Regions from separate parts of the Homo sapiens genome. Here regions 1, 2 and 3 are each linked to region 4. Evidence: fine-mapped expression QTL. A gene starts in region 4. Each other region holds a variant in brackets. All regions are shown on one strand. Distances are from middle to middle. Region 1 overlaps PRICKLE2 (prickle planar cell polarity protein 2). Region 2 holds the start of PRICKLE2-DT (PRICKLE2 divergent transcript). Region 3 has its middle 42 kb from the start of PRICKLE2. Region 4 holds the start of PRICKLE2 (prickle planar cell polarity protein 2).

Region 1 (8,106 bases), 68 kb before region 4:
GTTTTCTCAACAAACAGAGCTGGGACAACAGGAGAGCCTCATGTAAAATAATGAATTCAAACCCCTACCTTACATCATACATAAAAATTAACTCAAGGCTGGGTGCGGTGGCTCACACCTATAATCCCAGCACTTTGGGAGGCCGAGGTGGGTGGATCACAAAGTCAGGAGATTGAGACTATCCTGGCTAACACAGTGAAACCCTGTCTCTATTAAAAATACAAAAAAAAAAAAAATAGCCAGGTGTGGTGGCGGGCACCTGCAGTCCCAGCTACTTGGGAGGCTGAGGCAGGAGAATGGCGTGAACCTGGGAGGCGGAGCTTGCAGTGAGCTGAGATCGTGCCACTGCACTCTAGCCTGGGTGACAGGGTGAAACTCCATCTCGAAGAAAAAAAAATTAATTCAAATGGGTTTAAAGAGCTAGGGGCAAAAAAACAATAAAACGCTTAGAAGAAAACACAGGTGTAAATCTTTATGATCTTGAACTAGGCAATGGTTTCTTAGATATGATGCTAAAAGCATAAACAACAAAAAATAACGTAGACTTCATCAAAATTAAAAACTTTATGCTTCAAAGGACATCATCGAGTAAGTGAAAACACAGCTATAGAATGGGAGAAAATATTTGCCAATCATCTATCTGATGATGGACTAGTATACAGAATATATACAAATCACTCTTACAACTCAATAATGAGAAAAATAGGCCAAGTACAGTGGCTCACACCTGTAATCCCAGTGCTTTGAGAGGCTGAGGTGTGTGGATCACATGAGGCCAGAAGTTTGAGATGAGCCTCACCAATATGGTGAAACGCCATCTCTACTAAAAATACAAAAATCAGCTGGGCATGGTGGTGCATGCTTCTAATCCCAGCTACTCAGGAGGTTCGGTCAGGAGAATTGCTTGAACCTGGGAGGTAGAGGCTGCAGTGAGCCAAGATCATGCCACTGCACTCCAGCCTGGGTGACAGAGTGAGACTCTGTCTTAAAAAAAAAAAAAAAAAAAAAAGGGAAAAATAACCCAATTGAAAAGGTAGTCAAAAAATTTAAATTAAAAAAATTTTTTCAGACATTTCTCTGAAAAAGAAGATACACAAATATCTAATAAACACATGAAAAGATGCTCAACATTATTAGCTGTTGGGGAAATATGAATCAAAACCTCAATGTGATACTACTTCATACCCATTACGATAGCTATAATGAAAAAAAAAAACAGATAATAACAAGTATTAGTGAGAAAGTGGACAAATTGGAATCCTCATTCATTGATAGCAGGAATGTAAAATGTTATACTTGTTTTGGAAGACAATTTGGCATTCCCTCAAAAAGTTAAACTTAGAATTATCATATGACCCAGCAATTCCACTCCTGGGTATACACTCAAGAGAACTAAAAATATATGTACACACAGAAATGTTCATAGCAGCGTTGTTTAGAGTAGCCAAAAAGTGGAAACAACTTAAATGTCCATCAATTGATACATGGCTAGACAAAATGTGATACATACATACAACTGAATATTATTCAGCCACGAGAAGGAATGAAGTACTTACATATACTACTATATGGATTAACATTGGAAACACGCTAAACGAAAGAAACCAGACTTGAAAGGTCACATATGATTTCACTTATATGAAATGTCCAGAACATGTAAATCCACAGAGACAGAAATAGATTAGAAGTTGCCAGGGGCTAGGGAAAGGGGGAAATGAGGAGTGACTGCTAATGGATAAAGAGTTTCTCTTTAGTTGATGAAAATGGTCTGGAATCAGCAGTGATGGTTGCACAGCTTTGTGAATATACTAAAATCCACTGAATTATTTACTTTAAAAGGGTCCTTAATGCTATGCAAATTATATCTCAATAAACAAATTTCAAAGTGTGTGCTTCAATCATATTCTAATTGCCATTAGACAACACAAAGCTGTATTCTGAGCACCAATTTTCAGATGTGGAAACTGAGGCATGAAGGTCAAAAGGTGTTCTAGAACCACAGAGTTGGACCTGAATTTAGTTTTCCAGCTATCTTTCTAGAAGGTCTCTCCAGAACATCACCATTAGTGTTAGAATTCAAATTAGTTGAGCCTGATCAGCTTCCTCCTAGAAAGTGAGTCCCTCGTAGGTAGTTTGTAAGAAAGAAATGCCCATGTAACAGTAGGCTGTCTGGCTGAAAAAGGGGAGTGTTACTTACCTCCCACACTGCTATTTACAGAGAAAGATAGATGCAAAAAACTCCTTTGCACAGGAGGAAACCTCTGTCTAGGACTTTTACCCAAATTATTCCCATAAAAGTGGTCAGATTTAGAACATTCTTTTTTCTGCTCCCAACTTATAAAGCTAAACCAGGTTTTCTATTCTGTCAGCTTACACGGTAGGGTGTGCTTCTAGTAGGGGAAGAAGGCCAGGCAGAGGTTTTGCGTTCTATCCTGCTTTCTTACATAGGGTACTTCTTAGAGCATGGGGCAGAGACATCCAAATGAAGTATCCATCTGCCTCCTGAATTTTTTTTTCACTCAGAACTTTTATAAACTGTAGAAAAATCAAATAATGCTACCTATTTTCTCTTTTCTAATCATTTTGCAGCAGTGAATCTTGGAAAATGAAACAATTTTAAGATATAAGTGGCACTCCATTACTGATTATTCCATGAGATTAGGGTTAATATCTAAAGATGCACAATGCAATTTTGTTTTGTTTTGTTTTTAGGGTTCTGAACTTACTTAGGGCCAGTTATATGTCACTTGGGGATCTTCATGGATACAGAAACTGCCTTCCCAACAGGAAGCTATGAGACCTCCACGCTCAGTAAAGCAGGCCGCAACCCCAGACATTCTAGAAACCAGGGATGGGTGGGGCTTCTCTCCCAAAAGGGTTAATGCAAGAAAATGAAGTTGCCTATGGCTTTCTTCAGTGCAGAAAGCCAGAAGACCATGTGTTGGCTATGGTGCAATGAAGGGGTGATGGGCAGGTAAACCTGCTGGAGTTTGCTCTAACCTCATCGCAGGCAGCACAGCGCGGCTTCAGGCACTCAGCATGGTGCCTGCCACAGTATATCTTCCCATCTTGGTAAAAGTAGATCAGATCCACCAGGAGCTCATTGCAGACAGTGCATACGAAGCACGGCGGGTGCCAGCAAACGCCGTGGCCAGCGCGTGACGCAAACACAGCGATGTCTCCACCATTGATCTGGCCTCCGCACTGTGAGGCAAACAGAAACATCAGTAGTCACACTAGCCCCCATCTCCCAGTGCTGTGCATAAATGATAAAGGACAACCACCATTAGCTGGCTACTGAGTGCTTATGTTCAAAGCAGTCACTATGCTTCCTGCTTTACACAGGCAGCAGGGCAGGTTTTTCTTGTCCTCCCTGAACTCTCCTTTCCTAAGGCTTACAAATAATGTAGAGAGAAAGTCATTGGGAGAATGAGGAATCACAAAGGTGGGAAAGAAAGAAAAGCTCTTTTAGCACAATAACGTACAGGGGCTCTGCAGGCAGGAGGCAAACTGGCACAGAGGAAAGCCTCATTATCTTTTAGATACTTTAAACTCCATGCAGAGACACAGCCAGGTTTAACACCACCAGGAGTGGCTGGGGAGGGAGGTGGGTGGGAGGACGGGGCTTGGAGGAGGTGGGACCTATACTTTTATATGGGAGGGAGGGTGGATACATAACAGCACGCTCACCTTTAACTACCTTCTCTGTGTGCCTTTCAGGCATGCTTTTAGTCTGCTTCCTCTAACATCTTTCTACATAGTCTTGATTGACACGGCACCACTTCTAAGGCCAAACTATGGAAAGGGTTTCTTCCTATCCCTTCCCTACCTTCTCACTCATTTTCTCAAGTTCCCTCTTGATCCTAAAAGAAACAAGGCAGAATCACTGGCCACCTATGCTTACAGTTGGGGTTGGGACAAAAAGAATATGGTTTGAGGGACTCTGAGGGAAGAATAAAATGTGGAAAGTAGGTCTAGGGAGATGCTTCTGCTGACCATGGCATGGGCCTTGAGGTTCACAGGTTGAGTATAGTTCTAGGGTCATACAAGAGTGGCTGAGCTCAGGGGACAATGTCTAAAGAGCAGAGAAGCTACCACCAAATCTTTCCCATGCTATGCGTTGAAATGTATCTTAGAAAATGAAGTAAAGACCTCACAAACAGTCTCTGGGAACTCATCCACGTGTGTGACTGGACAAAAGAAAGGCATCATGTTATCCTTACCTTCCGTGATAATGTTAGCAGAGCTAAAGCATGCAGACATAATCCTATATAACCCTCA[CAT/C]GAGTCATCATTCATCCATTCTATAGATGACAAAACCAAGGAAAAGTAACACGGTCAAGGTCATCTGGAAGAAACATGAGTCAAACTTATGAAAGCTCTTTCTGCCTTCACACTCTTGGCACTATTCTACACAATTCTTGGCACCTGCCCACAAAATGCCCAACCTTCCTTCTCCCTTAGGCAAACTCAGCTTGCCTGGTTCCAGGAGACTGATCTGAGAGGAGCAAGGATTTCACCTTGCCTGGATGGAGCACAGTGAATCTCAGATCACAACCACTGACCACCTGTACCTTAAGGGTGGGTCCCAGATATACTTCATAAGAATAAAGATCCCACTGCCAAATCTCTGGTCAATTAGCTACCCCATCCCATATAACTGAACCTTCTCACTCTACCCCTCTGAAATCTCAAAAAAGGGCCTCAAATGACATCTGCTTCCCTTGGGCAGCATCCCACCTCCTCTTCTTTGATCCAGTTAACATATCTTCAGCTCTCAAGGGGTCTACGCAGAGCTTAAGGAGTTAGATAGGAATGTTCAAAAAGCTGTAGGACTTAGAGAAGTACCAAGAATGACGATCAGCACTGGAAAGCCTGTGGCAGCTGAGAGGTGGGGCAAGGTGTGTTCCCACCCTGCAGTCTCTAAAACTCTTCTTCACCACACCCTGAGCACTCAACAGGAGCAGAGGAGACAGGAAATCCAGAATCTTGAACGCAGTGAGGTCCCAGGGAGAATGCCTCTTCACTCCCCTGAACCCACTCTCACCTGTTCACAAATAGCTCCTGTCAACATGACTCGGAAGGGCTTCATGCACTTCAATAAGGAACTCTCAATTCTCAGGAGAAGATCATTTACCTCCCCTTTAAATGGCTCTCGTTCTGGGATGATCCTGGGAGGGAGGCTGACCCATGGCCCAAGCCAACTCCATTTTCTAAAGGTCTCTTTTTAAAACATAAATCCATCATGCCATTGCTCTGCTCAATTCTTCCAATGGCTCACCCAGAACTCTGACTTTATCTGAATTATCTCCCTTCACTCCCTCTGCCCCAGCCCATTGGCCAACTCACTGTTGAACATAATAGACACCCTCCTGTCTCAGGGCCTCTAAGCCGGTCATTCCTTCTGCCTTAGCATTCCCTCTGCCCTAAAATCTGCAAGACTCTCTCCCTCTTGCACATCTGTGCACATCTTTGCTCAGATCTTCTAAGTGGGGTCTTCCCCATCAACCTTCCTTAAAACTGCAGCCTCCCCACACTTCCAGTACATTCAAGTCTCCTTCCTTGCTGTATCTTTTTCTATTTTGTTGATTACATATATTGTCTGACTTCCTCCCCTAGAATCCAACTCCTTAGAAGGGCAAGATGAAACTTTCCCGTCTTTTGTTCACTACTGTATCTCAGGCACATAGTAGGCACTCAGTAAAACAATTGTTGGATGAATGAATGGGTGAAAAGATGCCAGAACAATGCCTCTTCACTCCCCTGAATCCATGCTTACCTGTTCACAAATAGCTCCTGTCATGGTGACTGGGAAAGGCCTGACATTCCCGCGGCCCAAGTTTTCGCGTTTCCTCTGGCTGCTGAAAAGCTTCAGCTCCCTCTTCTCTTCCTCATCCAGGGAGTTGCAATATCGAACCTGAATAGACACAGACAATGGCATGGAAAAAGTCACCCTTGCTCCTTAAGATTTCTGAAGCCCATGACTCTGAGTTTTCTCGTTAAATACACTCTCATTTGGTTTTATAGCCCTCGCCTGAACTTTAACCACAACAGCCTTGGAGAGATTTAAGGTGAGTCTCTACTAAGGTGAGTCTCTACTAAGATTGCGGACAGCCAAAAGAGCTTACCAAAGGCTCTGAATTCTGGATCCCAAGCCTTGGGCAGGCTAAAGGTGCCTGCTCCTTATCCTGACTGCCTCACTCTGCTCACCATGTTAAGATCAAATCATCTGGGGTGGCTCAGCTGCCAGGAAAGAGCTGAGAAGTTCTCCTTCTTCCAAACTGCAGGAACCTGATACTTTCATCTCCATGTGCCCATGCAAGTGATCCTTGACACCAAGAATGACTCTAAGTCAGTGAGCCAGAGCAGGTGTCCACGTGCTCACAGCTTCTGTTCTCCCGTCTCATTTTGGAAAAACAGGGAAACAAAGGTGTGAGCCTGAGGAGTTGGACCAGGCATCTGTGATGCTGCACAAAAGTCTCTGCATGTTTATCTTTGTAGAGAGAGGAACAAGCTGCCTGCTAGACTTCAGTTGAGTCGACTTGCAAGAGACATTTTCCTTCTTGTTAAATATAGAAACTCAGAGAATTAAAGGAGGAACATTAAAGATAATTTGAATCCAGTATCTCCCCTTACTTATGCACACCTTGGGAATTGTGCTATATTCTTGCACTGTTATTTACTCAATGCTGTTTTTAATACTGACTCAGTTTTTTGGAAACTTGGATGCATTTATTTCAAAAGAAAGTATAACTATAAATGGAAAACCAATATCACCCGTAAAAACAAAAACAAAAACAAACAAACAAACAAACAAACAAACAAAAAAACCAGAAGAAACCTAAATAGACTGGGAACAGAACCATGTTGTTAGATTCTAGCTGGTCACTTTGCTTGCAGGAAATCCTAAAACAGAGATCCCTGACGCTCCTACTTAAAAGTGGAGGCCAGTGTGAGTTAGAGAGATATGAGACACCTGCTAGCACTAAATTGAAATTTCCTCCTTGATTATTCAACTACTCTATCACAAGGAATACAATACAACTTAAAATATAGTAACTCTCTCAATATGTGGTTTCGTTTCATTTACTGCCATGTCCACATAACACTCAGAGTCATGTATATACCACACTTTGGGAAACACGGTCCTAATCCCGTCTCCTGTTATACTTTGGAGTAATCTGGACATCAGAAAGGTTAAGTGAATTGCTTGGATGATTTGTTACACAGATGGTTAGAGGGAAACCTTGGAACTAGGACTGTCACATCCTAATTTGAAAACCAGGACAGCTGTGGATATCAAAATTGTCTTATCTATGCAAAAAAGAAAATGGTCAAATATTTACTTTAGAATCACAATCACCCTTTGTCTTCAAAAGAGCCATTTCAAATAGGCTAAATCTGCCCACTGGGTCACACACACACAATTCCTACCAATGGGACATTGTAATCTGAATGGTGTCTCTTTTCATAAAAGCACAGTTAACCATAAACACAACAAACCACTAAAATCAGAGAAGAGCCAATCCCTTCTCTCTGTCAAATAAAAAGAGTTAAAAAAAAAAAAAAAAAAAAGTCTCCATGTAAACGTCCCAGAGAGAACTGCAGTGACCTGAACAGCCCAGAATATATGGTTACACCACTGACATTTTAGGGACATGCTTTCAAAGGAAGGCACACCCTTCCTGCTTGTAAAAACCCGCATTTTCACTTCCAAATTAGTTAACCAGGCATCAGGTTACAATGCTTGCTCTCAACTTTAAAGGAGAAAGCATTATTTATATTTGCTTTATGATGTCTGAAATAAGCAGCAGTAAAGAGGATCATAGCTCTCTTTTTAGGGAACTGCTTCAGTTTTAAAGTTTTTGTCCTGCTTACTCAAATTTATTTTTGAGGCTCTCAAATGATCCCCTTTCATTCTAATGTGGGAAAATAAGACTGAAAAGCACTCATTTCCCCTGGGACGGAGCTGCTGGGATTCAGCTCGTGGGTTGGAGAGTTGGTAGAAAGCTGGTGCCCAGCTCTCTAAGGGGGTTATTTCTCCTATCAATTAAAAATTACATTTTTGTTTTAAATGCAGTCAGAGTCAAGTAGACAGTTCAGTTCC
Region 2 (8,106 bases), 220 kb after region 4:
ATACTGACATGGAAAAATGTCCAGAAAGTATTTCTAAGTACGAAAAAAGTAAGCTATAAAAGGCAATATGTAGAATGTGTATTTTCTGTTAAAGCAATATTAATAAATAATCTGAATGAACCTAAGGAAATAATATCAGCCTATAAACAACATATATCTTTAGCTTAGGGGTGAGCAAACTGATTCTGTATAGAGCCAGATAGTAAATACTTTCAGTTTTGCAGGCCATAAGGGCTGTCTCAACTACTCTGCTACTGCAAAAGCAGCCTCAGATGTTACTAAATGAACAGGCATGGCTGTGTTCCAATGAAACTTTATTTATGGACTCTGAAATTGAAATTTTGTATCATTTTTACATGCTACAAAAATGTTACTCTTCTTTTGATTTTTTTTTTCAACGATTTAAAAATATGAAAACCCTTCTTAGCTAGCAGGCCATACAAATCAGGTAGCAGGCTAATTTTGTCCCACAGGCTGCAGCTTGCCAACCCCTGGTCTAGAAGGTATGAAAAAGAAGGGGTTCCTCCTCTATGATATGTATTTTTTAATTTCTGCACATGTGTGAGATATTTTAATATCTTTTAAAATAGTTATGTCTATTTCCAAAAACAAGTAATAATACAGATATACTGGCATAAACTGATATATTTCCTGTAGAGAAAAAAACCCTGTAAGGTATTTCAACTTCTATCAGGGGTATTATTAAATGCCAATGACATAAAGTGAGCCAACCTGCAACCTTCTTATCAGCTAAGTATCTTTCCCTGCCTTGATGTTAGGAATAACTCAATCTATGCTTCCCCCCACCCCCACCCCCTAAAACGCCTTTCCTTGTTTTCCATTTCTTGGCATGTCAGTGACTGAGGCAGAGTGTTTTTCCTCTCCAAGCAAAATAATCAGTGGGAACCCATTTCTTAGCCAAATTACAATCCATTAAAGGAAACCAGGCCGGCATCACCCCGAATTGCTGCCTCAGTCATCAATCAACACAATCGCCCAGGCAACTAAGGAGGGAGGCTTTTCAAGTCGCAGTCTTGGCTAGCCCAGTGAGTGCTGCCTCTGCAGCAACTGCATCCCGGCCAAAGCATCCCGGCTGGAAAGGCAGCCGTTGTCTGGAGACAAACAACTCTGCATAATTATAATGATCTCACAACACTACCCCTGCACTGGGCATTCCATGTCAGTTGCCCATGAAAGTGGGACTCCAGGAGGCTTGTTAGGAAAGCCCATCTTTTAATGCTCAAGTTGAATCTACATTTATCAGCAAAGCTGAAACGTTAAAGGGATTACAAGGGGCTTAGAATCCACTGGAGGTTCATTGATCTTGTCTTGCAAGGCTCATCTCCACACGCCCTTTAGAAAATGCTTTGGTCTGTTCCCTAGCTCTTTGGTTGCCTTTGATTTTACCACCATTCTCATCTGAGTTGGAGGGGGTGTTTCCTCTAGCCCTGATTCCAAAAGATTCTCAGATCCCTATATTCTAAACTAAGAGAAGCTATTTGCATGTTCCCCTAGGTAGTGATACAGACCAGGGGTCAGCAAATATTTTCTGTAAAGATCCAGATACTAAATATTTTAGGTTTTCTGGGCTATACAATCTCGGCTGCAGCTACTTAAGTCTGCCACTGCAGCACGAAAACCTGCTCATTCAGGATTTGCAAGCTCCAATCACTTCCAGTCCCTGACAGGTAACCTAAATATCTGAGCCACAGATAAGATGTAAGTAAATGAGTATGACTTTGTTCAGATAACACTTTTTTCTGGGTACCAAAATCTGAATTTCATGTAATTTTCATATGTTGTGAAATATTACATTCTTCTTTTGATTTTTTCCCCAACCATCTAAAAATGTAACTCATGAGCCATACAAAACAGGAAAAGGGTCACATTGGGCCAGCAGGCTGTATTTTACTGACACCAGTCTAGAGCTTTGCTATTCAAAGTGTGGTCCCTCAACCAGCTTCACAGCATCATCTTAAAGCTTGGTAGAAATGTAAAATCTCAGGCCCCACCTCAAATCTGTAGAATCAGAATCTGAATTTTGAACAAGAGCCCTCAGTAATTTGTATGCAAGTTTCAGAAGTCCCGGCCCAGAACACAGACTTCTGAAGTCAGATAGGGACAAAATACCATTAAGCAGTTGGCTGTGTAACCACAGGCAAATTACTTAACTCCTCTGAGACTCAGTTTCCTTACCTGTTAAAATGGATGTAAATAACTGCACTTACCTTCTAGGGCTGTCATGAATGATAAGGTGGAAAAGATGTAAAACACTTTCCTGGCATTGTCAAGCTTTAAAATGGTAGCTGATAGAGAAGCTTACTTTCTCTTTGGGGGAGATGAGATTGCTCATTCAGGATTTGCAAGCTTCAATCACTTCCAGTCCCTGACAGGTAACCTAAATATTTGAAGAGTTCCCTGAACTCAACTAGATTGCTGGAGAGGATGGTGAACTGAGGTCACGCCCATCTAAGGGGCAACTACTCAGCTCCTGCCAGATACTGTCGGAAATGCAGGAAAGTAGCCCTAATGTTACCTGGTCTTTGGATTTTTCAACAGAAGCCGGAAACCTGGGTTTATGTTAGAAAAAGCCTCCTTCTTTAATATGTTGCATGGATCAAACGAAACCTATCTGCAAGCTGGATTTGACTCAAGGGCTTCCAGTTTGTGAGCACTGCTTTAGAGCAAGTAACAAGAGGCAGTGACTCACAAGAAAATGAGCCAAATTTGGTTTGGAGCCAAATCCCAGCAGCATTCTCCCTAGCCAGGTGACCTTGGGTTAAGTTACTTAACAACCCTCAGCCTCAGTTTTCTCACCAGGAAAATAATCACATCTATTTTATAGGGTTTAGTGAGGATTACATTAAAATGTATGTAAAACACGGAAGCATGATCCCGGACAAAGCAAGCACTCGTTCTTATTGCTGATGCTGTTTTGGTATTACTGTAATTATTACTATTATTATCCATCAGTTCTTGGTATGTAGATACGCAAATCTTCACTGTAAAAATGGCTGTTTTTCTCTCCCTGTTCAAACTGGTTGCAAACAAGCAAGGCCAATTAACCCCCACTCAGAAAGCTATCTTGTAGCAGGGTAAGCTAAGTGCTTAGTTATTAATGATTTTGTTCTGGCTGCAGTCCATGAAGATACCCTAATCTTCCTTAATGAAAATTTCCTCAGCAGCCCAGCCCTACAGAGTCTCCCCTAGGCCACCCTGAAGTGATGTTTCTTCCAGGATAGGTCACCTGCAGGGAGCACCCTGCAGTGGCCACCTTTGCTCCCCAGCTGCCTTACATCAGGTGGAGGAGAAAGGTCCTGCTGACAATTGTGAGACCTTTGTACTCTAAGACCCATAAATACCTGTGTCTTGGTGGTTTTTGGTTTTTTTGTTTTTGTTCTTTTTAGAAATTCTAAAAAACCCCACATTTGCTACCTAAAAGTGTGGGTGACAACAAAAATGTAAAGGGTATATGATCACTCAAGAAAATCCCCATAAAATATACAAGACTTCAACAGGACCATGGGCATCTTTCCTGACACAGAGGAAGACTCGACGTAGGAAAAGTAATTTGCCATACACAGTGCTGGGTGTTTTAACTCAGTGCTTCTCAATCTTTAATGCGTAACAGCAGCAGCCAGGGATCTCGTTCAAGCTCAGGTTTGGATTGAGGAGGTCTGGGGCAGGGCCAGAGACTTTGCATTTCTAACAATCTCCCACGAGATGTTGATGTTGCTGGTACCTGCACCAGGTGCGAACGAGCACAATACTCTTCCCTTGCTTCATTTAGGTCTCTGCTCAGATGTCACCTTCTCAGAGAATCCTTTCCTGACTACTTTATCTAAAATGTGATTAGTGGAATAAGGGCAGGAATATTGTTTTGTTCTTTGCTGTGTCACCAGAGCACCTGGCGCAGAGCAAGCCCTCAAATATTTGTTCATTAGAGAGCTG[A/C]CAATTTGACAGGTGAGGAAGACGGAACTCAGGAAACCTAAGTCATTTGCTCAAGGTCACACAGCTTGCTAAAGCCATTGCAAATGCCAGCCCTGCTCTGTCTGGACTTCAAAGCCCCACCACGTCAGAGAGAAGCAAAGTTTGTTTACAACGTACTTCCTCCCTAGAACTTTAGTGCCGTCATGCCGGGAGGCAGTAACACAATTCTATCCTGTTTTTAAGAGATGCCTGCTGTGTGGACAAAGTACTGGAAGGGGACCAGAGAGGCCAGTGAAGGGGATGATGTGGTGAACAAGGGCAACAAGTGATCATCTTAGGGTTCCTTGGTATTTGGGGTGAGAACAGTTCCGTTCTCCCTGGGTCAGACGAAAGGCAGCATTTGGCCTCTGTGTCAGGCCTGCCTTTTCTTCCTACCCAGGCCCAACTCTCTCTCCCAGGGGCTCATGCTTGCCCCAGTGAGAGGGGTGTAAAGTGGGTTTCAAACTGCCAAAAAGAAGACCGTGCTGTGTAACCCAGAAATAGTTGTCTCTCTTCTCCGAAAGGTCACCCAAAAGTATGCCCATGGGGAAAAGGAGGGGATAAGAGCAAGCAGCTGCTGCCTTCCCAGCAATGGCTGGAAGTGCCATAAAAACCCTATTCATGGAGCCAAAGTGGTCTTTCTGCTGGGGTAGGGCAATTGCTTCAGTATGAAAATCTGTAAAGCCTGTTGAAATGGTCTCTTTCCAAAAGAATAGTTCCATAATGGGCTGAAAATAAAACACTTGTTTTCCCTTTGCAAAATCAGCTAGATTAAAACAGCTTAAAATTCTTCAAAAGGCTGTGATCATGAAGGTCTAGAGTGGCCCTGGACCCCTAGGATCCCCAGATACACTAGTTATGTCCCCTCCTGAGCAGTGGTTGAGGGGATGCTAAAAATCATTAACAAAATTAGCAAATATTTATGATATGCCTGGGACTGGACAAAGCATGTGTTTTTCAAGATCTCATTTAATCTCTACAATCATGCTCTGCATTAAATGCCATTATTATGCCCACTTAACAGTAGGGAAACTGGGAACTAGGGAGAGTAGTGACAGACAGGTGATCAGGGATCACACAGTGAAGGAGAGAAGTCAGGCTACACACCCACCCTGCGCCACTGCCCCACAAAGCCCCTGTTCAGAAGTTGACCCAAGGGCTGCAGAGTAGGGGAGGAAAGGAAAGTTGGAAATCACTTACTCTGCTGTTCATTACTCTGCCTCTCCCACCCCCACTAGAGCACAAGATGCATCAGAAAGGAAGCACTCAGTAGTTTTGTCATGCTGGATTTGGTTTACAAAATAAGGCTTCTACACCTATTCTCATTTTTTCACCCAGGTTCATATTTGGGACAAACAAGGGGCTGGGCTACAGCACACCTATTTGGGCTACCACATCGGTACCACTGATGAATGTCTATGTCTGCCAATTACATATTTATAAGGTCGCCCGCCTTGACTCTGACACAGAAGTTATTAAATGCTCGGGAGCCATAAGGGTTGCGCTCAGTGCCCTGAAACAAAGGCAAAGAGGCTGCCAGACCCATCTGAAGCAGGAACAAAAGCATTTAATTTCTGAAGGAGCTGGTTGGGAGTTTTCTTATAACTGGGTGCCCAGCACACATTACAAATGGGGAAAAGTAGAGATGCACTAATGCGGTGGGGGTGGGGGGCGGGGGGCGGGGTGTGGAATCAAAGCAGGCTTTTCTGCCTAGCATCCAGAAAAAGCCCTCTTCATAAGCAGCTTGAGTGGTGGAGAAAGGGGGAAAGATGCGCTAATCCAAGAGAGAATGTGTTATGATATTGCACAATTTTCTCCTGTCACCAGTTTTTCCTTTTTATGAAGACGCCAGGGAGGATTCACCTTTTGCTTGAAACCAGCAAACTGACAGCTTGTAAGCCTGCACCCCAACTTTTCCCAACCAGAGCCCCAGCAGCCAGATGCATTGGGAGGGCAACCAGCTCCCTTGTCTCCCAAACGTAATCATTCCAATCCAAGCTGGGGCTGCCTGGAAGTCAACACTCAAGGCACATTTAATAAGAAACATCTGGCCGCCGCAGAGGGTTGACACGGCCCAGGCGGGCAGCAATGGATTTGCGGTTGGGACCCAGAGTTACAGGCGCTGAATTAAAAACACAACTGGAAAACACCAGCTAGTCCAGGGAATCCTACACATACAGCACTGTGGCACTTGGCAACACTGCCTTGCCCAGGGTGAATTGTTTTGGAGTGAGTTACCTAGACACATAGTGCCCGTGCTAGGGATCCACAGTTCTCACATCAGTGAAACGCAGCCTTGAGCCCGGCTCTCCTGCATCTCCCAGTGTCTGGCCACCACTTCCACCTCCAATATTTGTAGCAGATGTAGCTCCGCTCTTAAAGAAACAGCCTTTGCATTCTTTCCATGTGACTTACAAGTGAGATTTAAGGCGGAGGGGAATATATATATATCTATAGATATATATATGTATGTATATTACATATTGCATATTTTATCTTGCTGTAGTGTTGTGCATTTACGGCTTCCTACCTCCATTTATGCAAGGCGAACCCAGGGCACTGGTCACCACAGGCGTTACATGGCTGGCCTCGCTCTATCCGCCCCAGTCCGGTCAACTTCAAAACAAAAAGACAACACACGCATGTCTCCACCACGGGGTCTCCCTCCACAGCCCCACTCGTGTCCCTGGCAGGATGGCCTGCCCCTCCCACCCCACCTCCTGTGATTTGAGCCAACTGCTCCTCTTCTGTATGGGGGACACGGGGCGGGGCACTGCCAGTGCCCCAGGGGTGGTCTCCCGCCTGCTTGGGGAAGGGTGCGCGGACCCAGGCAGGTTGCCTCCGGCATGGGCACTACACCACCACGAAATGACCACGGCTGGGGCTTTGTCTCCCCCAGACACCTTGGTCACGGGTTTCTAAGAAACAAAAGCAAGACCCTTCAGTTCCCTGGAGTCCGCAAGAAGCGAGCATCGGGCGCCCGCCCTAGACCGGGCTGGTGCTCCCGGAAAGGGGGCAGCAGAGGACACCCCAAAAGACGGCCCTAAAGTCCCCGCTAGAGCTCCAAGTGGCTGGACGCTGGAGCTTTGGTGCTGGGATTCCGATTTGCCCGGAGGGAGGGGGCTTTCCAGGGATCCCCCAGACTGTGACCCTGAGGGCCACGGTTCGGGTCTCACTGTCGCCCAGCCGGGGGGTCGGAACTTAACCCCTCCCGCGCCTTGGAGCGCTCTCTCGCGCCCTGGACGCGCCCCGCCCGCGGGGCCGGCTTACCTGGGGCCACAGGTGCGCAGCCGCGGGGCGCAGTGGGGCTGCGCGCGGGCGCTCGCGGCCGGCTGGAGGTGCCCGGCGATCGGCCCCGCTCGAGCGGGGGACACTCACCGAGCGGCTGGAGAGTCTTTTCCGGGAGCTCCGGCTGAACATGGCCGGACGCCTCCTGCTCGCAGCGCCGTCCGTCGGTCCGTCCGCGCCGCGGCCGGGAGGGCGGGTAGCCTGGGCGGGCACCCTCGGCGGCCGCTGGCCTGGCTGTCTCCGCCTTGCAGTCCCCGGCTCGCTCCGGAGCGCACGCCTACCCCTCCTCCCTTCCCTCTGCCTCTCCCTCCACGCCCGCAGGTCCCTCCCTCTCTCCCGGCATCCCCCCGCCCTCCCGGGTTCGCCCCGCGGTCCACCGGCTCTTCCCATCCCTCCCCCGCACCCGGCTGGGGCCACTTTCTCCCTTTCCCTGGCTTCTAGGCCCACTGGGCACAACTCCCGGCGCTTACCTGGTCCCGCCCCTGAAGGCTCGTCCCTCACCCTTGTCCCCAGCCTAGGGGCAGGGACCGTTTCACACCCCCCTGCCGCTGTAGCTGGGGTAGGGGAGTGGAGATGGAAGGATGAGGGTTGAGTTTGTTTAAGGTATAATCCACATACAGTAAATTCACCCTTTCTTAGTGCACAGTTCTGCCAGTTTTGACAAATTCGTACAGACCTGTAACCACCACCACAATCAAGCTATAGAACGGCGCTCTCACCCCCGAAAATGGATTATTTTAAAAGTTTGTACCATGCCTAGAATCTAGTGTTCATTAGGTGTTGGGAGAGGAAGAGAAAGTGGAGGAGGAGGAGGAATTATGCCCCTATGTAATTGTACAATGCCTGGAA
Region 3 (8,106 bases), 41 kb after region 4:
GAGGGAGATGTAAAACATCGTATGTTCCACGCACACATGGCGCCTTTTTTTGTTTTCTTTTTTAGAAGAGCAATTCACCAAACAGGTATTCCCAATATCACAGTAAGAGAACCACTGCTAGAAGGCAACATGAGTAAGTTTTCAAAATGTGTTTAAACAAAGTCCAAAGTGCCTTCTTGGACATTACATCACTTGTACCCGAAGGAGAAAGGGTCGACATGAACATACCATTTTACAGATAATGAAGCTGAAGCTCATGAGGTTAAGTGGTCTGTCCTGTATCCACAATTCTGCAGCAATTAAGCAAGAAAAATCATTCCTGGTCCATGTGCCCCAAAGACTAGGAGAAATCAGGTCAGGCCAAGGGAGAATCAGGCAAGAAGCTTAAATGAGGCTTTGTTCAGTCTCTGCCTCTCCTCTTTACAATATTCCCTTTGAGTTCACTTTCCACAGGATTACACTCAGAATGGGGGGATATACAGAGAATGCAGGAAGGGCTGCAAGTGAGCTCAGGCCTTGAGCATTAGGAAATGGCTTCAACTTTCTGGGGCTGTGTAGGGTGAGGTCTTGTGAAAGGATCCTGTGGGAGGCATTATGGATTGGAGGCAAGAAAGTGGCACCTACATCCAGGTAGAAAGGGCCCTTGATGGAAACATAACTGTCTTAAGAATTCCAAAAGCTGCAGGAATTAAAAGCACTTCACAGTCAATCAGCCTTATCTTGGGTCATCTTGGTTCAGAACTTAAAGAACCCAAGGCAAATGAGCTGAACACTCCTCAAGTTGTTGCCACGAGGGCCTCTGCCCCATGTGGTCTCCCTCAATTCCATCACAGTGGATTGTCTAAATGGGGACCTCATGGACTGCTGTCTACAGAATGCCAGCATCCTAGAGAAGCAGGCTTCGGCAGAGTGGCGGCAGGGCAGTGGGAAGGGTGGTTACTGAGTATAAATTATAAAGAGAAGACCGCCCACCCCACCCCCCACTCCACAACCCGCCAACAATCCACCAAGAGCAAATGCTTGAGAGCACAGGCTGCATTTAAGAAGCATCCCAGGTAGATGCTTGGAATTAGACAGTTGTAGGTCCAGGTCCCCCGCATGGCCACTTGGTAGCCTTGTGTCTCAGGGGAGTTACCAAACCTCTTTGAGCTTATCCTTCATCATCTGTGAAATAGGCTGGCTGATGGCACCAACCCTCATAGGGTTGTCGTAAGGGTTTTTCAGTAATAAAGAGCAAACAGCGACGTGCTTCTCAAGATAAAGTCCAGAGTTCCACCTGGATATTTCTTAAATGCAGATTTCCAGGTCATACTACAGACCTATGAAATAGACTCCCTGAAGGATATCCCTATGCACTATAAAGTCTGAGAAAGACTGGTAAGACGTTAAGTCTGTGCTTGGCAAAAGCTCAGTAAGTTAACAGGCATCATTCTGTTTACTGATGTTATCATTTATAATATGGCAAGATGAGACCTCTTCTCCAGCCTGGACAACTTAGTGTTCAAAATTAGAATTTATCTAACATCCAACTCAACAGATGTTTGCTTATCCCCAGAAGCCTGAACAGAGCCTCAATCATCAGAAAATATAAAACAAAACCAGTGACTAATTACAGCAGCCTGGGTGAATGCAGAGTAACCTTTTGCAAATGTTCCCAAGAGATCAAATAGTAGCTGTTTTAAAGAAAAAGTAGTAAGAAGCAACCTTTGAAAGATGTGATAAGCAATGTCACGTATACGCTCCCTGTGGATTGGCATCTTGCCTGGGAAGATGCTTTGTGAAGAGGGAGAGACCCTAGTGATAGGTACAAGGATTTCTCTACACAGGCTGGCTGTTAAAAGTCAAATATGAAGCAATTCTCAAAGGCCTCTGGGCTAATCTTGCAGGGAGATCATTCATGAGTTTTCCCAGACATTGAGTCCCACAGTACCTGCGTCTGTTCCCTCCGCTACCCCTACATCTTCCATTCTTCTGGAAGTTGTCCAGATTACAATCTTTGCAAAAATGAGCCTTCCTTTGCTGGTCACACAGAGGAGCAGGATATGAAAAAACATCACCAACAAAACAAAACAAAGCAAAAAGAAAAACAAAAAACAAACAAACAAAAAAAACTGAATGGCAATCAAATGCTAAGTATCCCAGAAAAGAATTCCTCACCATTCAGATTTTGAGAAAATAAAAAATATCAAAGAAACTTTTTTGGAACATCACATTTAAACCTCAATACAATTTCCATAAAGTCTCATTATATTCAACTAGGATTACCATTCTGTGTTTTAGTAGCTAAAAAAAATCATTCCCTCTGCTTCCTCTCATTGACATCAGAATATCGCACAGAGTTTATATTCACCTAGCGCTCTCCTACTTTATGATAGTGATAGGAAGTGCTTAATGTGACTGAGTACTTTTCAGGAAAGATTAAGAAAAACAGCCTGGGGAGCACAGCATCTCTGAGATTTGGTTTTCTAAATTATTTTTAAAAACCCACAGATCTCTGCATACACAGCTACACAAAGCAGCACGCATGTCCCTCAGTTGCCTCTTACCGTCTTTTCATTGCCCATTTTCTATATTGTTGATGTACTTCAGGGCAAACCCAACACAAGACCACTTAGCCTGCTCTGCAAACAGCTCCACAAAGACCATAAATGTCACCACCAAATTGGTGAGTGCTAGTTCAAACCTTTGCACCTCTCATTCCTCGACACATCTGTGTCCCTAAGGATAACAATTCTGGCTTAAAAGAAATCTTGGGAAAAGAAGCCAAGAGTTTTTCCTGTTGAAGCTAAGTGGGAGGAGGCTAGTGGGGAAGTGGGCTCGATAAAACTGTCTCAAAAATAAGTTCCATCTTAAGCTCACAGAGGGAATGAGAGAGTTATTTCAGTTTCTTAAATGGAAGTACAACCCCGAAAATAAAAAATAAAAGGCTTGTTGATGCAGAGGCTTGAAAGCCTGTGTGAGATTGAGGGTATCACTGAGGAAAGACTGCCTTGTAACAGAGCTTTCTTGTATTACACCCAAAGCTGTGTACCATCTGAGGCTGATTCAGGAAAATACTCAAATCTCCTGGTAATTTCCTGCAGACAGGACGTTTAATCATCTCCAAGCCTCCACCGCAAAAGAAAAAAAAAAAAGCTAAACCAAATGATTCACACTCTTAAAACGAATCTGCCTTCAGAAGAAGAACGGTTTTCTGGTCTTGAAAAGCAGCCACAATTTGTTATTCTAACAAAGTGTTCCTTTCCTCCAAACAGAAATAAAAGTTGCTCAAGGAGGGCTTGTCCTGATTTCTGTTCTGCATTTCTTGAAACTTCCATCCAGTCAACAGTTTCTCCTGGCAGGTTCTCAGAAATCCAGAGAGAGCTGGGTAGTCAGTGACTAAGAACACAGGATCATTTTTATATGCCTCCCTAACCCCCACTTTTTGGCCCCATGGGAAGATGCTTTATTGTAGGATGAGCAGAATCAGCTGCATATATAAATTCTTCACTGCCCAGCTCACTTGACACCTTTATCTGAATTGCCCAACAGGCTGGGAAGATTTGGCAATTGATGATTTGAAAAGGAAAGGCCCAGATCTTCCCCAAGTGGTATTTGTTCTGTCTGTACAGACAGGGCCATGTCCATGTCTCTAATTACTCAACTAGCTGCACAGATAAAAACATTTG[C/T]GTACAGAAAGCAGGGAACTCAAAGTATACAAATGATTCACACCACCTAAACAACTGCAAATAAAGGCCGGCCCAGCAAAATAAGGGCTTCTAGAAGCCAAAATAATTTAATATGGGCGGAAATGGAATTTGGCAATCCACACATCAGACTCTGCTCCAATTTTGGAAGGCATGTCTTCCAGCTGCCTCATCTTAAAAAAAAAAAAAAGTAAACTGACCCTCTGCATTCGATTCTCAACCTCTTGCTTAGGTACACACAAGTGAACAGATGGGTGGGGGGAGCTGAAACCTCATCTTTTAAATCTTACCCAGCACCTACCCACAATCTTTCCTGATTATTTTGGTTTTAAAATTTCCCAGGGCACGGCTGCCCAGGCACTCCAGATTTGTAATCCCAACCTTCACCAAGTCCTGACTCTTCCAGCATCTGAGAGGGTGCATTTGGCAACTTGGAAAGTAAGAATTAACTCTCTCATCTCCAAACTATACACTCCCCCATGTAGAGCTAGGAAGGGCTAGGAGAAGGGCCCTCTCCACCTACCCCAATTCAGAAAGAACACATTAACAAATCCAGAGTTGCTTCATTACCGAAGTCCACCAAGAAGCAAAGAAATGGATTTTTAAAGTTCTGGGAAAATAAACAACTTTTATCTTTTCGGGGATATAAGCTCAAAATATAAAGGTATGTGGGAAGAAGTAAGTCATGTTTTAAAGTAGATCTTCCTGGAGATGTTAAGAAATATTTTGAATAGAAAATAACTAGGTCATTAACAGTAAATACCTTTTAAATATTTAGGGGAAAATGAATTCTAAGAGAATAAAGGCTATTTAAAAAGCAAGTCCAGGGATGTTTTCATGTTCCCTCTTAAGTAGTCCTAATACAATAATACCACCATCGCCTCGTGATATTATGATTACCATTGCTGGTTAATAAAGTGGCTGCGCGAAAGGTGGCTGACACTCAGACCCTCAGTTCACCAGGTCCCCACCGCGGGGCTCCTGACTTCCCAGCGTCTGGGTGGCAAAGCGCATCTCTCCCAGAGCTTAGTTTCCAGCTGCAAGGCCCCTTTTTCAGGGGAGCTCCTGAAACCAGGAGCAAACATGCCCCTGCGCCGCCCTCTGTGCTCCCCGGCTATGGGGGGGCCACTTACCCGGCTTAGCCTTGCATTGCTCCGACGCTGCGGCGCCTCTGCCGGCCCGGGAAACTGCGGGGGAGCCGGGGAAAGGGGGTTGGAGACCCAGGGGCAGGGGTAGCGGCCGCAGCTAAGGAACCCAGCGGGGCGTCGGCAGCCAACTGCCCGGAGCCGAAGGGGGCCCTGCAGGGGCTCCGCACAAGGCAGGTAACATTCCTGGGGCGGCAGCTGCTCTGTGCGCAGCTCCGGATCCAGGAAAATCGCTCAGGTCCTGGGGAGAGGAGCTCCAAGCTCTCTGGGCTGCCTCCCGGCTGCTTAAAGGGACACCTCCCCACCTCCCACTCAGCTTATTGGTGAAAATCTCGAGCCACAGGCCAATCCTAGGCCTGTTCCCAAATTGAGATTTCAATCAAGGGAGCTACTACTTTAAAATTAGAAAGGGCTAATGGAGTGCTGAGCCACCTTTCAAAAGCAGAAGGACACAGGCTCTCTGGCCCTCACACCAGAGGTCCTGAGAGCTGGCAGTGGCTGGAAGAGAAAGATTCGACTGTGCCACGCACACAAGGAACAGGGGGCATGCTGGAATCCTAGGCTTCACCCCTCCTGTGCCCCCCTCAACCCACTGCTGTCCTTCAAGGCTCATCCAGTTTATCACAGACACTGGAGGCCTTCGTGGCTCTCTGCTCTTGGTGCTCCTAAAGCCTTTGCTTATGTCTCTTTTCAGCCACTCATCACATTTTCACTTTTTTGCTTAATCTGTCACTCCCTTTACACTGTAAATTCTACCTAGGTAGGAATGTTTTTATCAAGACATATCACTCCCTACCTGGAACGTCGTGAGCTCTCAGTAAATGTTTGTTTATTGATTGAATGAATGAATACACAAAAGAATGAACAATGGAAATATGTCCCATGTTGGCTATGCCAGTACAATTGTTAATTAAGAGAGTAGTCAAAAGGCCAGGCATTAATTTCACACAAAACTGTGTTCATATATGGACTCTCCCTCTTACAGGTAGGTAACCTGCATTTTAGTTTCCTTGTCTGTAAAGCATGATCATGAAATTTACCATCTCATAGGGTTGTAGTAAAGATTGCATGAGCTCATGTTTAGTCCAGAGGAGGCACTCAGTCAATAACCTCGGACAACTGAACAGTCAATAGCTGTTGTTATCACTGCAATTAAAATACATTTGCTGGAGATTTGGACTGAGTCTGACTGCTGATCTGACTTTGTAGTGAGCACAGTTATTAATGAAACAAACGTGAGTTAAGTGCCAGCTCAGTGCCAGGCCCCATGCCAGGTACTAGGATCATCAATGAAAGATAAAGTCCTTGACCACAAGTAACCCATAGTGGTGGCAGGCGGAGGAGGGGAGAGAAGGAAACAGACGAAGTGAATTATGCTAAATGATATACAAGCAAAGACATATGTAAAGGAATGTTTATTGTAGGATAGTTTATAAGATCAAAATAACTGAAAACATAATTATCCAATAATACAGGACGTTAGTAAATTATGATACATCCATATGATAGAATACTATACAGTCATGAGAAAGAAGAGGAAGAACTAAGTGCACCAGTATGCACTGAGCTCCTCAATACATTGCTAAGTACAGTGCAGATAGTAAAACATATTTCTGCTTGCACAAAACATCTTCATGTATTACGTATGTGCACATACATATGCTGTATATGCAAAAAGTACTTCTAGAACCATGCCTAAGAAAATGATAAAGGTTGTTGTTACTGACAAGGTGATTTGAGGCCTAGGCAGATCTAAGAGGATAAGGACACTAACGTTTCATCATATGTCCTTGTATATTATTTGAACCTTTTACCATGAGCTTGTAACAAGGTCCTGGTTCTGGCAAAATGGCAAATGATGACAACCTGAAAATTCCAACTCTTCAAATACCTAGACATGCTAGATAAAATATAACAAAAATTATTTTAAATGCCTAGCTGACTCACAATAAAGAAAGGAAGGCTGGGCACGATGGCTCACACCTGTAATCCCAACACTTTGGAAGGCCACACCAGGAGGATCATTGAAGCCGTGAGTTCAATATCAGACTTGGCAACATAGCAAGACACCATCTCTACACAAAATAAAAAACTAACTGGTTGCAGTGGTGTGCACCTGTAGTCCTAGCTACTTAGGAGGCTGAGGTGGTTGGTTCGGCCCAGGAATTCAGGGCCACATTGAGCCATGAGGGCACCAATCTACTTCAACCTGGGTGACAGCATGAGACCTTACATAAAACAAAAAAAAACAAAAAAAACAAAAAAAAAACCACAGGAAAATACCAAGAAATAAAGAGGTAATTAAAAACAAGAGTAAGAAGCATGCAAAGTTATGCTGTGGCTATGAGAGAGAGGGAAGAGTGGTTGGTGGCAGACAAAAGGGTTGTCTTGGTTCCCTAGGGGCTAGGATTGTAATGCCCACACAGGAGACAGACAGTGCCTTGGGACAAAGAGAAGCAGGAAGCTGTTACAAGACCTTTGTAGAAAGCCAAAAATATTCACTGAGGGCTGCACCTTCAATGAACAAATAGATTGGAAAAATTGACAACCACCTAGGTAAAACTTGTCTGTCTCTACCTGTATTGTGGGTGAGAGGGAAATGTTTTAACTGAGAATGAGAAATCCTAGGGCTGTGCCTTTCATGAGATTCTAGGAATAACAAAAGTCAAAATCAGGAAGCTCTGACTAAAAAAATTAATATTAAAATTAGTCCTGTTCGTGACATGCCAGGAATGCCTTATAGAAACAAATGAAGATTTCTCTGGCCACTTCTACAACCCAGGCTACAACCAATCCCACAAGCATGAGATCCCAACGGTAAATTATACAACATCCAAGAAACTGATGTTACAAGTCAACAAATAAAAGAATAAGAGGCTCAAGAATTACAGGTCATAAAACAATTGACATTCTGAAAAGAAACATGGAATGAGAAAGTTTATAAGGATTTAAAACACTGAAGCTAAAATTGAAACCCTTAAAAAGAACAAGACATGATGACTACTCCTCTCCATAGATCCACTAAAATTAAAAACTCAAAGGACAGGTTAAATAGATACTAGTAAAGCAAGAAACGTAGATCTCACGACACTACACAAATAAAGCACAAAAGGATAAAGAGTTGAAAAATATCTGAGAGATAAAGAGATATGGAGAATATAATGAGAAGGCCCAACGTCTGTGTAATAGGACTCCCATAGGGAGAGACCAGAGAAATCAGGAAGAACCAATAACTGAAGATATGATGGCTGAGAATTTTCTGAAATTTTTAAAAA
Region 4 (8,106 bases):
GGAGGTGGGCTGTGGTTAAGGTATAAATATTATTCTCCGTGCAAAACACAACTCTACTAAAGATCAGTAGCAACCAGGAACGACCAACTCCCAGTTCCGAGTTTCTTGGGAAAGAATTTTATGGCAGACTCCTCTCACTCTTGTAATTCACTTTTGTCTTTCAGATCCCTGTGTCAGAGTTCTAATTCCCCAAAATTAAAAAGAAAGATCTTGGGAGGAAAGGGAGAAACAGCAGTCCACTTGTGTGACAGAAGTAGGCCCACCGGCATGAAGGAGGCAGACCACGAGCCTGGCAAAATTGTGCCATAGCAGTGACACAAAACAAAAGCAGACAGACTGGGCCATGGTAGGCAGGCAGGCAGGGGAGGGCTATTCCTTTCCCTTAGCAGCCAACCCATAAGCTGAAGGCACCCAGATGGTGGCAAAAATTCAGCCTTGGAACTTCTGAGGAGCCAACCAGCAGGTTAAGCACATATTCAATGGCCTCCCTGGATAGAGAAGAAAATGCTCAATATCTGCACTGAAAAGAATTAAGAAAGAAAAGGACTGTCTCTCACATGCATAGGTGAAGCAGAAGAGAAATCTAGAAATGCATTGATTCCAACTGGGACCCCGCAGCTTTCTACATGTGACTTGTCAGCTGCCAAAACAGGATGCCTTCTTTAAGGCTGCCTAAGCCCCAGTTAGTTCTAAATGATTTTCATTATACCAGCTGGTCACTTTCAGTTCTGTGAAATACAGTAGTTCTGGATAATATACTTTATTCTGTCAACTCAATCAATAGGGTGGAAAGTTTCTTTGAGTGGGAATCATTTGGATATAACAGTACCAGAGATGGCATCTTTTCTGCTAGCAAAACCTTTCTGCAGGCAAATGGATGTGAACATGTTGCCTTTTCAATACTGTTTTTTAGCAACAACACTTATAATGATAATGACAAAATGGTAACAATGACAACAACAACAACAACAATAGCAGCTAATATTTACTGAATATTTACTATGTGGCTGCCACTGTGCTCTGCATAGGTCATCTCATTAAATCCTTACACCTATCACCCTAACTATAGATTCCATTGCTCTCTCCACTTTACTGGCAGGAATGGGTAGCTTTAAGTATCTTCAGCTCTTTCCAGCTCCAGAGTCTGAGCCCTGGATAAATATCATCTCATACTATCTAACCTCTAAGTTCCCTTCTCATTCTTTAAGCTTCCATAAATGCATCTTTCTTCCTCTATTTCTATTTTATTCCCTCACATTTCATGGGTAAATCTTTATAAACACACCATTTCAAACAATGCTATTTTACTCTTTCTGGCTGCCCCGTGAATCTTTATAGACTGAGATGCCCGATGGAGCCAGTATGTTTTAATTTTCACATGAAAAACAGAATTCCCAAGGGGAAGGAGCATTTGATGGAAAGGCAAAACCTTTATAAGCACTCAAGGCATTAAAATCCAAATTTCCAAAATATGGTAATTATGTCAAAGTTGTGACTTACTCTGGAGCCCTTGGGGACCCTCATCCTGACCCATCTGTGAAAGCCATCAGCAGGCAGTAAGCCTTCTGAGGAGCAGGATTACAGCAGCCAATTTGGCCTCTAGCAAAGAGGCAAGGCTGCTTCATTTAGTTTAAGTCTCACTGAGATGGTTTAAAACACTCTTTGGGAAGAGATGTGCAGGCAAAGCAAATCACAGCCTTACCAGCTGCAGATTCAGTACACGGCAGTCTATGTCTACATATTCATGGCACACTGGAGCCCTCCCCTGACTGTGCTCATACATGCATTGATATGGGAAGCAGAACTCTCTCACTGGGGAAATAATCTATGTGCCTAAGTTAGACAAGAGCCACATTTGGACCAGCGGATGGCATCACATCTGGTATGGATCGCTAACCTCAGTGTGATTTGGCCCAGCCTGGATTATTTATGATTCATAAAAGTCCCACTGGACCCCAGCATAGTCCAAGACCACATAACAAAAAACCATGGGATTAAAAATCTGTATTTCATTGCAAGACCCCCATGGCAAATTAGTAATGCTATGATTGGTTTTCGAGAAGCCAAGAGTGAGGAGAACTAACTATGATCACTCCCTCAAGAAACCCAGCATAGAGGGCAAACCGAATCATGTGTTCAGCCAGGCTATGCAGTCATATTCTGAAGCTCTGTCACCATTTCTAATCTGAAAGCAGTGTCTAAAATTAAACCTAAATAATTTGAAAGCCATTTCTTTACCTGGAAGTCTCAGCTGAGTCCTTGTTCCTCAGATCCCCTAATGGTTTCTGACATCATGTGTTGAAATGACTACTGTACATGAACGCTATCAGGTATTTGGTCTGTTAGCCCCTTTCCCCATATTATTATGGTTTTTTAAAGAAAGCTACACTTTTAGAGAAACGCTGCTTCTTCTTAAGCATCAAGATTTAAGCGTTTCTTCAGGACTCCCTAGAGCTGTGACATAACACTTTGTAATCGAGCTTTCTAATCAGCATAGAAAAGGCAAAAGGGGTCGCAGGGCCACCAAAAATGCTACCTGGCCAAGAAAACGAAGACCCAATATCCTCCCCCAGTGCAAAGGCCCTAGATCTGGCTTTCTCATCCTCCTTAGAAAATATACTGCTGTTTAATTTGTGAATTAGAGCAAATTTCTTACCCACCTCCAGGGAGGATGAAATGCCCAGTCTCGGAGGAAGCTTCTGCCAGACCCTTGGAGCTTGTCAATTGTCCCAGTTCACTTTCTCCCTGGATCTGACTTCTAAGAACGCAAGCAGGACCTCAGGCAGCCAAAGCATCTTCTCCTCAAACCCCCTTTTCAGTCTGAACCCTTCCTGAAGCTGGCAACAGACTCAAGCCGAGCTGCTCCACATTCCCTCAGGGAAAACAGCACTGCTGGATCCAGACTCTGCTGGGGAATTCACCAAGCAAGAGAAAAAAAGTATGACTTCTACTCTTCCTCTAGATCAGCCTGAGTGCTCAGATCGCCTTCCGGAGGACCCCCAGTTTCCTCTTAACTCCCCTTCTTCATGACAATCTGAAGGAAGAAGTCATAGACTCCAGCCCAGCGTCACCAGCTGATCCTGAGCCAGACCCGGGGTGACTAGTCAGCTGCTCACAGAGCTCAAGCCACTGAACCAGGAAATGTGCTGCTTGGTCAAAAAATAATAATAACTCTCGGTGGCGCTGCTGGTGGTGCCTGAGAAGTCGCTGTTGCAGTGCTTGCATCCTCCGCATGCTAATGAAGCTGTGATGTCAGCAAGTCAGTCACGGCATCTGGACGTCCCATCCTGCTGCCCAGTGCTGAGATTTATTTACATGTAAATTAGCCTTGCCTTCCAAATCAATAATCCCCAAGCCAGGGAGAGGGGAAGGAAGCCTTTGCTGGATGCAAAGGCCCAGCTACGTAACCTCCAAATGAGCATGAAAAAAATCACATATAAGAAGAGAGGCTTTAAAGACACATGCCTATTTTTTTTCTTCTTAAAAGCTGTGCTCTTAGGTGCCAAGGTTCAGATCTGGGCACAATTATCAACCTGAGCGCCTGTTTCAGATTATATGCTGCACCAACCTAGGAGTGGAATCAGAGCACTCTTTTTTTAATTAAATGCTGTGTCAAGCCTTCAAAAATGCCTCTCCTTTTTTTTTTTCTTTCTCTTCTCTCTTCAACTTTCATTTTCGGGTGTTGCTTGTTTTTTGGCCTGAGACTATGTCACCTTTGAGTTTTTGTGCACCTCGAAATAAAGCACAAGTGACTCCTTTCCTCACGTGCTTGGGTGGTGAGTCAGTCAGCTGCCCTTTAACCCCTTACCCCAATTCCAACTGCATGCAGAAGAAGACAAAGCATAAACCTTCCCAGGGCATCTGAAGACCCTGAGACCCTCAGAGAGCATTGCTTCCATCTCCTCATTTTACAGATTAGAAAATGGAGACAACTGGAGAAAGGACTTTTCTAAAGTCACACCAGGATTTCAGCAAGGATGGGTCAGAATCCACATTTCCTAGACCTCAGATAGAGCTTTTGTTGAATACCTTTGGGGTCTCCGAGCTCCATTTTTATACACCACTAGGCGGCCTAACCAAGCAATCTGGAAGAAAGGAATCTATACATTTGGAGAGCCCTGTGTTCAAATCCTGCCTTTCCTTCCTGCTAGCAGTGTGATCTTAGGCAAGTAACTTAACTTGTGGGATCTTCAATAACCTCATCTGTACCATTCACTCATTCAATAAATATTTACTAAGCACGTACTCTATGCCATGCACAGCTCTAAAGGCTAGGTATAAACACAGTCTCTGCTTTCAAGGGCCTTATGGGCTACTGCAATTAAAGAAAGTAAAATATTGAATAGAACTATGGTGAAGATTAACACAATATCACATACTCAATAGCTATTTCTGATATTTTGAATGAAGTTAGAAAAATTCACCGAGGCATACTATCTACTAGGCTGATCACTGTTCCTAGCATCTGAGTATTTCCATGGTCATCTTTAATTGTTTAAAATCATATATTCCTTCAATGCTGCCTGTGCAGTATCCCGGGCCAGGAGAGAGGCAAGAGCCAGGCAATATTCTGGACTCTGTGCCTGTGATAAGGAAGCACTGTGAGTGAAAGTAAAGGGTGAGGGAAAGGTTGGGGAGGCTGGGAGGGAGGAATATTCCATCATGCACAGAAGTGTCCCAAAGGACAAAGCAGCTAGCACGGCTCCTTGCCCACACTCCCCCGCCTGGGGAACCCACTCTGATGAGCTCTGCCCTTCCAGCTGCAGTTCCTGAAGCTTCAAATGAATTTCTTTGTTGGATGTGGGGAAGTTAAATTATGTCTTTTGTTGTATGTAATTGTATTAATAATGCTTAATAACTTCTTTCAGAATGCTTCTCTCTAGTTCCCAGAAGACCTTTCATGGTGAAAATCATGAGACCTGGAATAACTTCTCAGTAAGAGAAATAAAATACAAGCAAATGAATAACACTCAGCCTTCAGTTTCCATCACACAGAACTCAGAGCGTGTAGGGAGGCAGATGGTCTCCCCAGACCTCAATATCCTTCAAAAAGTCAATTAGCAAGTCTAACAGTTTGGGGCCCCCAGTAGCCAAGTGGAAGCAGTGACATTCTAACCCAGTGTGGCCACGAACAAGTCACTTCAACTTTCCATGCCTCAGTTTCTTAAAAATGGGTACACTACTCTCTCATCTACTCATGATCAGCATGGTCATATAAGAGGCAATTCACAGGTGATCAACAATGAAATAAAGAAGACAGCTGAAACATAGCAAGAGATTACTCTTCACCTGGAACAGATGTGACACATCACTACCAACTTCATAAGAATTAACATCATAACATGGAGTCTAAAATGGATTGCCTGGGGTCAGACTCTGGCTGTGACACTTGCTAGGTCTATGACTTGAGGCCTGAGGTCCTTATATGTAACCTAGGGCATAATGATAGTGCCTACCTGCATGGGGCCATTGGGAGAATCCAATGAGCATTAATGTGAATCATTTAACACTGAGCCTGTTACATAGCAAACACTCAATAAGTGTTAGCTATTGGTAATATTAATAGAAACAATCATGCTTCCACCATTAACTTCAGCGCAAATTAGTTAAGTAACCAGTTAAAATTCAAAAGGTGGGGAGAAAGCGGTAAAGGGAAGACTGCAAAATCATCTTTATTCCTAGAGCATATCTCAAAGTTCTATCTAATGTGGGTGAGCCACTGATATGCCATTTTCCATATGATACAATACAAATGCTTTGAACTGCTATGAATCTAGGAAATAAAGGAGTAAAAATGACCAAGAGGCGGGCTCCCTCTTCTGAAACTATACACCAGGACAAGACAACTATATTTTTGAGATGAATACATGCTTCACCCATTCATTCATATATCCATTCACTCATTAAATAAGCTCCTACTATTTGCCAGTCACTGTGCTAGGGTCTGGGGACAACATGGTGACCAAGATACACATGGATCCTGCCTTAAAAGAGCTTGGCAATCAGAGAGAAGACAATTAAGTAGGCAATTAGAGTAGAATGGGGTGTGTGTTATGGCAGGAGGCATGCAGAGTCCTCAAAGGCCTAATTGCATTCAAGAGAGGGATGGCACAAAAGCATGCTGCCCAAGTCCTTTTGCCAGCACACGCTCTGTGAGCTCAGCTTGGTGATGAGGAAGCTGGATATCTATGCATCACACTTACACAGAATATTAAAATTACAAAATCCACAGATTGTTAATTCCCTGTGGTCATTATTTTCATCCTGGAGACCATTCTAATGAGGTGTTTTTTTTTTTACAAATTATACTGGTAGGTATTAGAAAAAGTGAGAAAAAACTACTTTAAAAATTTCAGAGACTTAGTAAATAGGAACAAAACTCATATTGTTTTTCTAAAAAACAGTGAAATTCCACATTCATGACAGCAAACTTCATGCGAGTAAAGGCAGGGAAGAACAGGTAATACATATGAGAAACTCAACCAAATGTTTATTAGGGATTTGTGAAGCGGAGGACACTCTTGTCAGGAGACAAGGATGCAACTGTCGACCTTCAGAACTTTCTGTTTAGGTAGAATGATAGGATATTTATACAAATGACCATAATTGCATATAGTATATAGGAAAAAGGACAAGGAAGACAAAATTAATTATGGCAGAGGTGATCAGGAACCAGGAAAAGTATGATCTGGGTCAGGCCCAAGGTCAAAAACGCTTTTACTTTTTTGGAATTAAAAAACAATTTTATAGTGGGGGAAGGCCTTACTAAGCATGACACAAAATCCAGAAGTAGAAAAAGGCTGCAAAAATTTGACCTTAGTCAAATTCACCTTCTGCTAGAGGTGTTCCAGGCAGGAATAAGAACATGAGTAGGAAGGAAAATTATGAACACAAATGCATAATTAAGAGACATCTGCATGGACACAAGACAGCAAAACAGCAGCAACATGACACTGGCAGGTAATAACAAAGAGACAGCTCCATGCATGCTGGAAAATCAAATCATCTTTCCATTCTAGCCAGCTTTAGGCAGCATCTTGTTAGAGGATTACAGGGAAAGGTCAAGTACATCTCTACTGGTCAGGTTACAGAAGGGAAGGGTAAGTGACAGGAAGGGTGGTAGCCTCCTAGATGAAGAGCTGTAATGAGGAAGGCTGCAATGAACAAGTTTTAAATCTCTGTTTCTACAGGTATAAAATAAGAAGGAATGGATTTAAACGACCTAAAGAGGGTCCTAAATTCCTCTTTAGGTCATTTAAAATCTTTCTTGGACCTAAGGAAGACTTCTGAATATTGAGATAAGAACTGACATGGGTCACTCAAGGAAATGGCAGTGTTTCAGTTTTTGGAGAACTTTAAAAAGACAGACATCACTCATCCTAGCTCATTTAGATTACTACCTTCTGGCCCTGCTATTGGGAAATTCTAATTGTTGTAAGGGATATTACCAAAGTTTCAAACCACTCATCTAATAAGGTTTCCCTTTTCAAATGTGTGCATTTCTGTGTGTGCGTGCTTTTAAATATTTTACTCAAGAGTAATCCTGATATTTAGATTTCAAAGTCTAATAAAGTAAATGTGGGAGAGGAAGCTGACAAAGAACTGTCATGTAAGTTGGTCTAGCATAGGTGATGATGCAGTAACATATGATCCCAGATGTCAATGGCTTAACACAAGAAAGTTTGATTTCTCTCTCAGGCAAAGTTGGTTGGAGGCCCAGAGGTTTTCCAGGTACTCCATTCTAAGTAGCGACTCAGGGATCTACTCTGCTTCCTTCTTGTGCCTCTGTGATCTCAGTGAATAATTTCCAAGTTACAACAACAGCAGAAGAGAGAACTGAAGAGGCTTTTAGGTGCCTCAGCCTGGAGATGAATGATATCACTTCTAGTGGTCAAACTAGTCTCATGACCTCACCCAGCTGCAAGGAGGCTGGGAAGTGTATGCTCACAAAGAACAGGGAAAACAGACAATGGAGGACCCCAGTAATGTCTGCCATAGCTGTCCATTTTAATTTGTGCTATGTAAAAACATTAAACAAAACAAAATACAATCTATTAAACACATAATGCCTTTAAACAAAGGAATGTTTAACATTTAAAAAACTAT

Evidence for each region. PIP is the estimated chance that this variant, and not a neighbour inherited with it, causes the effect.
Region 1: its variant is fine-mapped to the expression of PRICKLE2 in thyroid (GTEx, PIP above 0.99). The same link has a PIP of 0.9 or more in adrenal gland, caudate, esophagus muscle, lung and tibial nerve.
Region 2: its variant is fine-mapped to the expression of PRICKLE2 in pancreas (GTEx, PIP above 0.99). The same link has a PIP of 0.9 or more in stomach.
Region 3: its variant is fine-mapped to the expression of PRICKLE2 in liver (GTEx, PIP above 0.99).

Annotation. Positions count from the first base shown.
Region 1 is chr3:64,154,162-64,162,267 of GRCh38, forward strand. PRICKLE2 (prickle planar cell polarity protein 2) reads right to left here. Exons shown (of 8, transcript NM_198859.4): 4 at 5,779-5,916; 5 at 3,001-3,204. Among named protein-coding and RNA genes, the nearest start is that of PRICKLE2-AS3, 29 kb to the right of the region's middle. RefSeq lists enhancers at 2,664-3,165, 3,166-3,666. The variant CAT/C (reference allele first, on the strand shown) is at 4,282.
Region 2 is chr3:64,437,984-64,446,089 of GRCh38, forward strand. It overlaps PRICKLE2-DT (PRICKLE2 divergent transcript), which reads left to right and starts at 7,274. Exons shown (of 4, transcript NR_183714.1): 1 at 7,274-7,424. The variant A/C (reference allele first, on the strand shown) is at 3,952.
Region 3 is chr3:64,263,080-64,271,185 of GRCh38, forward strand. It overlaps a transcript of PRICKLE2 not described here. Among named protein-coding and RNA genes, the nearest start is that of PRICKLE2, 42 kb to the left of the region's middle. The variant C/T (reference allele first, on the strand shown) is at 3,669.
Region 4 is chr3:64,222,250-64,230,355 of GRCh38, forward strand. PRICKLE2 (prickle planar cell polarity protein 2) reads right to left here and starts at 3,217. Exons shown (of 8, transcript NM_198859.4): 1 at 2,661-3,217. RefSeq lists a silencer at 3,104-3,398.